3 linked regions of the Homo sapiens genome follow. The protein of the gene in region 3 purifies or fractionates together with the protein of the main gene of each other region. This does not show direct contact. Each region holds a gene or a part of one and is shown on either strand. Other genes may lie near its edges. The genes, in order: HERC4, NLRP1 and APAF1.

Region 1 (3,500 bases), on a different chromosome or scaffold from region 3:
AGAGTATAACAATTTTAAATTATATCAAAACTATATTATCTGGCTGTCTATCTATATTAGGGTATACTCTTTGTACAAAAAGAACTGAAAAACAATTTAAAACATTTTAGTAATCATAATATTGGTGGTAATGTTGGTACTGTTAGGCAGTAAATGTGTAAGATAAGTCTGGAACATTCTGTCATAGTAAGTACACAAGGTAGCAAGGAAGGTACCAAAAAGTATATAGGTTGTTTCAAAAGGACTTGGGCACCAACCTTAAGAGCTCTCCTTGAACAAAGATGGGACAATATGAGCATCAATGAAGACAATAACTGCAGTGAATTGAAAAACATCAAGTATGTTTAAACCTATGAATACCTAATGATACTTGAAAGCAAAACACAAAAAATGAATTATTACCAGTGGACTATGCTAATGAACCAATTCATTCTTTTGAAAAATTGGTAACTAAATAGAATCCTTTCCTATGAATTGCACTACTAAGGAATCAGAAAACGTGAGGAAATTTCTCTATACAGAAGTATCCAAGCTAATAAATGAAAAAGAAATATTAGAGTAGCACACCATTTTGCAACCCCTGATGAATTAGAGTCTAGGCACTAAGCTGCTAACATTACACAAGACAGCCAACCTCCAGGCAGAATGATTAAATATTACATTGAGGTTTTTACAACCAATAGCTATTCTATCTAAATTTCTTTCAAGTCAGGAGTTCTACTAAACTGATCCATCCTTTTCACTTATGATCACTAAATTGGGTCAGCAAACTTTCTATAAAGAACCAGATGGCAAATATTTTGGGGTTTCCTGGACATAAGGTCACTGTTGTAATTACTTAAACTCTGCCGCTGCTATTGTAGCATGAAAGTAGCCTTGGACAATAGGTAAAAGAGTGGGTGTGACTTTTTTTTTCTTTGAGATTAATGGGCTATAGTCTGCTGACCTGCTCTAAATGACAAGGTAGATAAATCAATGATCCCTAATGATAAATTAATTTTTCCCAACAGAAAAGTTAATCTGGTGATTATTATTCAATCCTCAAATTGAAATCAGCAGAAGGAATAGTCAACATTATTTTCTGGCTAACCATCTCTTAATTTATTTTGTTAATTTAAAATGTGTGGTAAGCATCAAATGTATTTTGACAACTCCAAGTCCAAAGTTTATAATTTCTCAAATTGTAATAAAGCAGATCTTATATGTTAGGGATCCAGTAGTAATTCCTTATTTACTGAATTAACTTGATACATACAGGTATAAATACATGGGTATATACACAGAAGTAATTTAGATGGTTGGACATTTTACCTTATCAGAAAACCAAATGAGCCTGGAATCTTCATAATACCTAAACATGCCGTATTTAGGATCCAATAATTCCCTCATGATGAGCAAGAAAAATTCTTTGCGCACCCCTCCTGCATCCACAGCATCTTCTCCAACAAATATAACCTAAAATAGCACAATGCAAACACCAAATAGACTGTAAAGAAATGAAAGTACATTCTGGAGACCCTAGAACATGTTATTTATTACTAATACTCTACAATTAATAGTTTAAAATAAATATAATTTTATTTATTAAGTTTAAAAGATTCACTAAAAACAAATAGGAAAATTTTAAACATAGCTTCTGAATAAAAGTCCCAATTATACCACAGAAAATGTCAAATTACCTTGAGTGGCTTCTTGTAATCTATGTTCTTTGTTTTCCTAAGGACTTCCATTGCATCTCCTACAATATTTTCTCTACGCACCACTAGAATTAAGCAGGGATTCACAGATTCAATCACTGGGAGAAAAAGAGAGGAGACATTCTGCCTGTGGGCCTGATCAATAGCCATCTGGAAAACAAAAGATTAACATTTTAACAGCAATGCTACAATAAAGCTACTGTGACTGAAACAAGCTAACCTCTACCTATTAGTTACAGGTATTCTATAATTCCTATGCTACTGAATTAACATAGCACCTAACAGTATCCCGTACAGCATAAAACTTAATAAACTGAGCATAAAGAGTACCCTTTTGAATGTTTTTATACTAATGTATAATGTATAACTCATAACACCATTAGAGTAAGCCAGTACAGAACGGTAGTAATACTGATAAATCTGAGCATTGGTTTTTCTAAAAAACATTCACTGGAGGGGAGGGTAAAGAGGGAGGAGCAAAAACAAACCTTTAAAGAGTATAAGGAACAGGCTGGGCGCAGTGGCTCACGCCTGTAATCCCAGCACTTCGGGAGGCCAATGAGGGCAGATTACTTGAGGTCAGGAGTTCAAGACCAGCCTGGCCAACATGGTGAAATCCTGTCTCTACTAAAAATGCAAAATTAGCAGGGCGTGGTGGTGTGTGCCTGTAATCCCAGCTACTCAGGAGGCTGAGGCAGGAGAATCACTTGAACCTGGAAGGCAGAGGTTCCAGTGAGCTGAGACTGTACCACTGCACTACAGCCTGGGCGACAAGAGCGAAACTCCGTCTCAAAAATAAAAAATAAAAAACAAAGAATAAGGAATGATCTGGCTAAGGAAGCATTACACAAATTCACTTAACTAAGTGATCATGGTATGTGCTCACGAACCAAGGATTTGACTTTTACCATTTAAAACTTTTGTTCTTTTATTATGGTTCTCCCTGAGTTCTTGTTCTAAAATGGAATATCCCATGGTAAAATCACCAAGTTATTAACTTATCGTTTTAACAAAGACCTCCAAAAAATTGGCTTACTAGCTGTTAGTATAGAACACTACAAAAATATTTAGAATACCAAATGCATTTATTTGAACAGAATAAAAATGGTTACCAAGATTTGAAGGTTTTTAATTTTTTAAAATATTTTTAGACTATTAAATATTCAAGCTTTCTTTTCATCCTTTCCTTAATCCTTAGTTGGTATAGTCAGATATTCTATACCAGAGGAAGCAGCTCAAAATCTTTTTTATTTACAGGATCAAATGATAAAGCAAACTTACTGTAACCCTTTAAAGTCATAATATGAATTAGTTTAAAAAATCCTCTCTATAAATGAAAGAACTCTCAACATAAAATGGATGGGAAAGGGTGATAGGAAGGGGAAAAGAAAGAGGAATAGGAGATAATGGTGACCAACCCCAGGAACATGTTTAATACCTTATTATTGAAACTTTCTTCAAGGAAATTTCACATCTTCTTCCTAACGAGATCAAATGCTTCCTACTTTTAACATCTCTCACCTCTAGTGACTTCCATCTCTTACCAAGCATATAAAAAGGGGACATATAATGAAACAAGATTTTGAAACAAACCAACATCTTATCAAGTAAACTAGTAAAACGGTTTATAAAGATTGAATATTTCTGTAATGAAAGAGGCTTATACAATTTTTAATATATAAAATGATTATAGGTTAAGTTATTCCATTTTCACTGCAACCTTTTTTTATAAATGTTCTCATAAGAATATACATATCACATGCAGCAGTCTTCTTTATAGCTACCCAAAGTACTTTGTGTACC
Region 2 (2,684 bases), on a different chromosome or scaffold from region 3:
TGCCACTGCAGAAAAGATGGAGTCCCTATAAGTCATTCGATCAGGTACGAAGACATTTCTATGCCTCCAGAGCAGGTAGGGATGATGGCCCCTGTTCAGCATGAAGCAGTGACAGAAGATAGATCTCTGTCCTTCTACAACCTCTTAAGATTAAGGACGAGTATGTAATGTCTGAGGTGGGGATAAGATAGGAGGTTGGCAGGACTGGTTTCACAAAGACTCCTCGTATAAAACAGGATGTGGTAAAGAAGCCAAAACCCATCAAACCAAGATGGTGATGAAAGGGACCTCCGGTTGTCCTCGCTGCTCATTATATGCTAATTTTAATACATTAGCATACTAAAAGACATTCCCACCAGCGCCATGACAGTTTACGAACGCCATGGCAGCATCTGGAAGTTTCCCTAAGTAGTCTGAAAGGGGGAAGAACCTTCAGTTCCAGGAATTCCCACCCCTTTCTCTGGAAAACTCATGAATAATCCACTCCTTGTTTAGCACACGATCAAGAAATAACCACAAAAATAGCCAACCAGCAGCCAGTCGGGACTGCTGTGCCTATGGAGTAGGTAACTTCTTATTCCTTTATTTTCATTTTTTCTTTTTTGTATTTTTTTAATTCTTAAATTTAAGTAAAAAATTTTTAATTTATAGGGGTTTTCTGGTAAAAACTGGAAAGCCTGCTAGACAAATTCTAAAAGAGCTGTGATACTCCTTTATTTTCTGAATAAACTTCCTTCCACTTTACTCTGTTGGCTTGCTCTTGTAGATCTTCCTGTACAAAGCCAAGAATCCACGTGGCCTCCCACGCTGAACCCCAATTTTGGGGCTCACCCTGTGACACAGCCAGAGGCAAATGGTTCCATGTCCCTCCTATTCCTCTTTGCGCCTGGATGGGATCCGGAGGGCTCTAGGCTTGGCTGCTGTGGCCACCAGATGAGGCTCTATGAGGTCTGCAGGGGTCTTGCCAGCTCCAGATGGACATTCCCTGAGATGCTGTTAGGCCACCTGGACTGGGGCCCCCTGTGGCATCCCTGGCATGGACACATAATGCCCAGCAAAGGCATCATCAAAGTTCCATTACTTTAGTGCTGGAAGGCAAACCAGATGGCAACTTGTTTGCAGAGAAAGAAACTGAGACCCAAAGAAGGGTCAGCCAAAGCCAGGACTCAAGGGTCAAGGGCTGGTGTTGATACTTCAGCTGCTGAGTGGCAGGAGTCCCTTTTTGCTGCCCTTCTCCCAGAGTTCCATAATGAGGTGAGGATGGGTCTCCTTCAGGGCTTGGTAGAGTCCATCTTTGCACTTCCGGTCCCAGGACTGGCTCAAGCTGAACAGCTTCCGCATCTGGCTGGGCCTCGTGTTCTCAGCCAGCACCCTCTCGTACTGCTCCTGGCTCAGCACCTGTCCATGCAGTTTGTCCAAGACAACCTCCACCGATGTCACTCGGGCTATCAGCTGCTCTCGATACTGGTCCACAAAGTGCAGCAACTGCGGGGCATCCAGAGGTGAAGGTACGGCTGGCAACGAACAAAGAAGGGCTCCAACCACAGCCTCCACCTCCAATCCCCACCTTCAGTGCTTTCCTCTCTCATCTCTGCATCCCTCGCTTCCTTCTGCCTCCAGAAATGCACCTGTGTCCTCCCTCATGGCAGCATCTAGCTTGGCATTCTGCCAGAGTGGGGATCGGGAGTGGGGTTCCTGCTGGGCACATTGGAGGCTGTCAGATAAGGAATTCTAGGGTCTCTGTGGATAGGACAAGGGGGTATGGGGAGCGACCATGCACCGCTCTCCAGGGCCTGACTCTTTGTGAGGTTTGCAGTGATGAGTCCCTTCCTTTCTCTCTTCCCTTCCCCCAGAACCAGACAGTACCCCAGAACTGCCACCGCCTCCTGTGGTCTCTGAGAGCTGTTACTGACCTATGCGGGCTGGAGGGATCAGAGTAGTTGCAGGCATGAGATCTCCTGGAGGAAAACAGAGATGAAGATGCATCTGAAACAGTGCTAAGTTATTAACACACATGGTACACCTCCAAGCTCCCACTCACTTCTGAGATTCTTTGATTTAGAAAAAAGCCACAGACAAATTCTGGTAGAATCTGGAGTAAGAGCTGGAAGGGTCCTTAGAGGTTATTTAGGTGAATCCCTTCCTTATGCATATGGGGAAACTGAGGCTCAGAAGCTGTGATCATACAGTAATAGAAGACATCCAAATGAGCGATAGCAATTTCTCCTATAACATCCCAGACTTGGTTTTAATCCCGTGTTGGCCTGAATTGTATCCCTGGTGAACTAACCAAACCCCTTGCTAGATAGCTTGAACTATTTAGCACCTCCTTGTCTGAGCAGAAATCTACTTCCTTGTTCTTGTTTAGCCTTCTAGACTGGCACCAACCAAAGGTGTACGTTCTGGATTTGGATGTCAGAATCTAGAATCAAGATCAAGCAATCTTAGGACATGGGAATAACAAATTAATTTTAACAGAAAAAACAGACAACGACAAAAATGAAGGGACTTAAAAATTGCTTTGCAAAGGAGAGAAAGGGGAAGTTCACAGCAGCTCGCATGTACAAGGCCTGAGAGTCTGAGCAGGCTCTAAGTTCAGTGTGATCTCACAGTTCAGGGAGGTGGGCACAGGGGAGGGAGTTCAGGTTGTGGTACCAGGAGCACCGGGTCCATGTAGGTGGAGA
Region 3 (3,738 bases):
GATGAGGATCATTGATCCCATTACCTTTGTAGGCACCTTAACGTCCTTCTGAAGGATGGAAAGATCTGTGTAATAATCTTTGATGTCTTCTCTGAGCATTTCAACACTTATAGACATGGCTTCATCTAGAGCCTCATAATCATAAGACGAAGATTTCCTTATTCTCTTAAACTGCTTATTCTGAAGCTGTTTGAGGTAGTACTCCCAGCGATTGGGAAAATCACGTAAAAGTGCACCAATTAAAGATACTACAAGGGGAGAGCCTTTAAAAAAAAAATGAAGTCACTATGCTAATACCATCCTATTTTGTCACTAATAAGAATCGACTTACTTACTTACATTACTAAGAAACAATTTCTGCTGCATGTTATCAAAAGCCTTAAGTATTTATCACTCTTGACTTCACTTCTAGATATTTATCCCAAAAAAAATTAGAAATAAGAAAGATTTCATTCAGTAAGTTCCTGATTATCTTTATTAAGTCAAAATAACATAGATCAAATCTGGCTAAGATGTCATTACAAAAAAAAAAAAAAATATATATATATATATATATATATGCGCCAGTCTAAGCAATATAATGAGACCTTGTCTCTACTAAAAATAAAAATTAGAAAAATCAGCCAGGTGTGGTGGTGTGTGCCTATAGTGCCGGCTACTTAGGAGGCTGAGGTGGGAGGATTGCTTCAGCCCAGGAGGTTGAGGCTACGGTGAGCCATGACAGCACCACTGCATCCTAGCCTGAGGAACAGTGTGAGACTCTGTCTTAAAGAAAAAGAAAAGAATGATTAAGTTTAAGGATATTCATCACAGCACACTTAGAATAGTGAAAAAATCTTAAACAACGTAAACAATGTCCAATAATACAGAAGTGGTTGAATAAATTAAGATATATCAATATTATGCCACTGGTAAATTTTTTTCAAAAAAATATTTAACAACATGGGAAAATGCTCAAGATATAGAAAAAGGGTAAGATCCAGCTGGGTGTGGCGACATGTGTCTGTAGTCCTAGCACTTCAGGAGGCTGAGGTGGGAGGATTGCTTGAGGGCAGAAGTTTGAGACCTGCCTGGGCAACATAGTGAGACCCTGTCCCTACAAAAAAATTTAAAAATTACCCAGGTGTGGTGGTGGGTATCTGCAGTCCCAGCTATTCAGGAGGCTGGGGCAGGAGGATTGCTTAAGCCAAGACATTCAAGCCTGCAGTGAGCTGTGATCTTACTGCACTCCAGCCTGGGTGACAGAGCAAGACCCTGGCTCTTTAAAAAAAAAAGGGCAAAATCCAAAACCACATATACATAATCTCAACTTTTTAAATCTTTGTTCTAAAAGACTGGAGGCAATACTCTCATGATGCTAATAATTATCAGGTTATGGATAATTTCTATTTTTTTTTTAGTTTCACACATTTTCAAAATGGACATGCATCACCCTTTGTAATAACTACAAATTAAGCATTTTTTCTAAGTGTAAGATTTCTTTAAAAATTAACAAAACTGGCCACGTGTGGTGGCTCACGCCTGTAATCCCAGCACTTTGGGTGGCTGAGGCAGGTGGATCACGAGGTCAGGAGTTCAAGACTACCCTGGCCAAGATGATGAAACCCCATCTCTACTAAAACTACAAAAATTAGCTGGGTGAGGTAGCACGCACCTGTAATCCCAGCTACTAGGGGGCTGAGGCAGGAGGATCACTTGAACCTGGGCAGCAGAGGTTGCAGTGAGCAGAGGTCGCACCACTGCACTCCAGCCTGGGCGACAGAGTGAGACTCGTCTCAAAAAATAAATAAAATAAATAAATAAATAAATAAACAAACAAAACTGTGTGTCTATTTGATGGCAGAATGAAAAATAAGGTGGCCAGGTATGGTAGCTCATGCCTATAATCCCAGCACTTTGGGAGGCTGAGGCGGGCAATCACCTGAGGTCAGGAGTTCGAGACCAGCCTGACCAACATGGCGAAACCCCGTCTCTACTGAAAATACAAAAATTAGCTAGGCATGGTGGAACATGCCTGTAGTCCCAGATACTCGAGAGGCTGAGGCAGAAGAACTGCTTGAACCTGGGAGGCAGAAGTTGCAGTGAGCCGAGATCACGCCACTGCACTCCAGCCTGGACGACAGAGTGAGACTTGTCTCAAAAGAGAAAAAAAAAGAAAAAGAAGAAAAATAAGGTATTTCCAAGCATAACAATAATGAAAGAAATAATTTTAAGAGTTGATAGATTTGACTGTTTAAAATTTTAAGCTTCTATATGTCAAAAGAATACAACAAATAAAAGGTACACAAAAAACTGGGTAACAGGCTGGACATGGTGACTCATGCCTGTAGTCCCAGTGCTTTAGGAGGCTAAGGCAGGAGGATCATTTGAGGCAAGTAGTTCAAGACCAGCCTGGGCAACACAGCGAGATTCTATATATAAATTTTAAGTTAAAAAATTGTTTTACTGGGAAATAATACTTGTAAAAATATGACAAAGAGCTAATAGTTTCTATTTTTTGAGTATTTAGAAATAAATTAAAAATACTTATATCAAAAAAGAAAAGTGAGTCAAGGATAATTTCTTAAAGTCAAGGATAACTTCTTAAAACGTATTCAATAAACAAGTAAAAAGTTTAACTTCGCTAAAAAAAAATGCAAATTAAGACACCAGTTTTTACTTACCAAATTAGAACACTATTTTTATAAAATCCCAAGCAAAAACAAGTTTTAAAATCTGATTCTCACTCTATTTTTAACTCTAACAGCAGAGGTCACATCTGTGTCTCACTTCTCTCACTAATGTGGTCTCTAACACACTGTGGGTAGATGGTAAATATTATTTTAATGAATAAATAAATACCATAATATCATGTATCCATTTAAGATATCAGAGAACCTAAAATACTAAATCTCCCAGAAAAGTTTTTGGATGTTCATGTGCTAAATTACCATATTCATTAGCTCAATTAACAAAAGGGAAATTATATAACTCCCTATAATCTCCTCATAAACAAATAAATAACCATACCTTTACATTCTTTTATAATACTATGAGCTTGTTCTGGCAAATCTGCCTTCTTCATATTAACAAAAAGGGATAAAATTTCAAGTCCTTTTTCCTTTCCTAAGGAACTCTCCACAGGGACTACATATTTAGGACCTGCAAACAAAAATCACAAGACAAAGTAAGTAATTTGGTATGTCACATATTTAAATGTAATTAAATTAAATATAAAGGTACTAAAAAGTAAACGAATAATCCTTACCCATTACTGAATCTGTAACACTCTTGTCTCTGGTTGTAAGAAGAATCTGACACTGACTGTCAAAAGCTTTCAACACCCAAGAGTCCCAAACATCATCCAAGATCAAGAGAGACCTAATTTAAAAAAAAAATATTAATCACTAATGACACTTATCTTAAGCTTCCTTTTAAAAAGATAATCCCACCAGTGTCTTTTAAAATCTACCAAATTAAATTTTTTTTAAAACAAATAGATGGCTAGATCTAGGAAAATGATTCTTCCTCTTTGCTATACTCTTCTCAATATGCTGATTCAAATAAGGAAAAAAAAAATTAGAGACTGCCTTCTCCTCAAACCCTAAATCAGAACATATTAAAATTACAGATCCTACCATAAAAGGTTCAGCCATCACTTACTGAGTGCCAAAAAAAAAAAAAAAAAAGCGACCATTACTATCCAAGTAATGGGATTTTCCAACTCAGTCTTTAAGCACCAAAACCAAACTAGAACTG

The links.
Region 1: the proteins of APAF1 (region 3) and HERC4 purify together in Homo sapiens (affinity purification with western blotting; one study listed by BioGRID). This does not show direct contact.
Region 2: the proteins of APAF1 (region 3) and NLRP1 purify together in Homo sapiens (affinity purification with western blotting; one study listed by BioGRID). This does not show direct contact.

Annotation. Positions count from the first base shown.
Region 1 is NC_000010.11:67,953,284-67,956,783, forward strand, and holds part of HERC4 (probable E3 ubiquitin-protein ligase HERC4), read right to left. Parts: intron 1,848-3,500; coding exon 1,680-1,847; intron 1,456-1,679; coding exon 1,312-1,455; intron 1-1,311. UniProt on the Homo sapiens protein: Probable E3 ubiquitin-protein ligase involved in either protein trafficking or in the distribution of cellular structures. Required for spermatozoon maturation and fertility, and for the removal of the cytoplasmic droplet of the spermatozoon.
Region 2 is NC_000017.11:5,513,560-5,516,243, forward strand, and holds the end of NLRP1 (NACHT, LRR and PYD domains-containing protein 1), read right to left. Parts: intron 1,959-2,684; coding exon 1,914-1,958; intron 1,515-1,913; coding exon 1,195-1,514; 3' UTR 559-1,194; downstream 1-558.
Region 3 is NC_000012.12:98,662,078-98,665,815, reverse strand, and holds part of APAF1 (apoptotic protease-activating factor 1), read right to left. Parts: intron 3,361-3,738; coding exon 3,248-3,360; intron 3,142-3,247; coding exon 3,010-3,141; intron 766-3,009; coding exon of another isoform or gene 737-765; exon of another isoform or gene 458-736; intron 264-457; coding exon 25-263; intron 1-24. UniProt on the Homo sapiens protein: Oligomeric Apaf-1 mediates the cytochrome c-dependent autocatalytic activation of pro-caspase-9 (Apaf-3), leading to the activation of caspase-3 and apoptosis. This activation requires ATP. Isoform 6 is less effective in inducing apoptosis.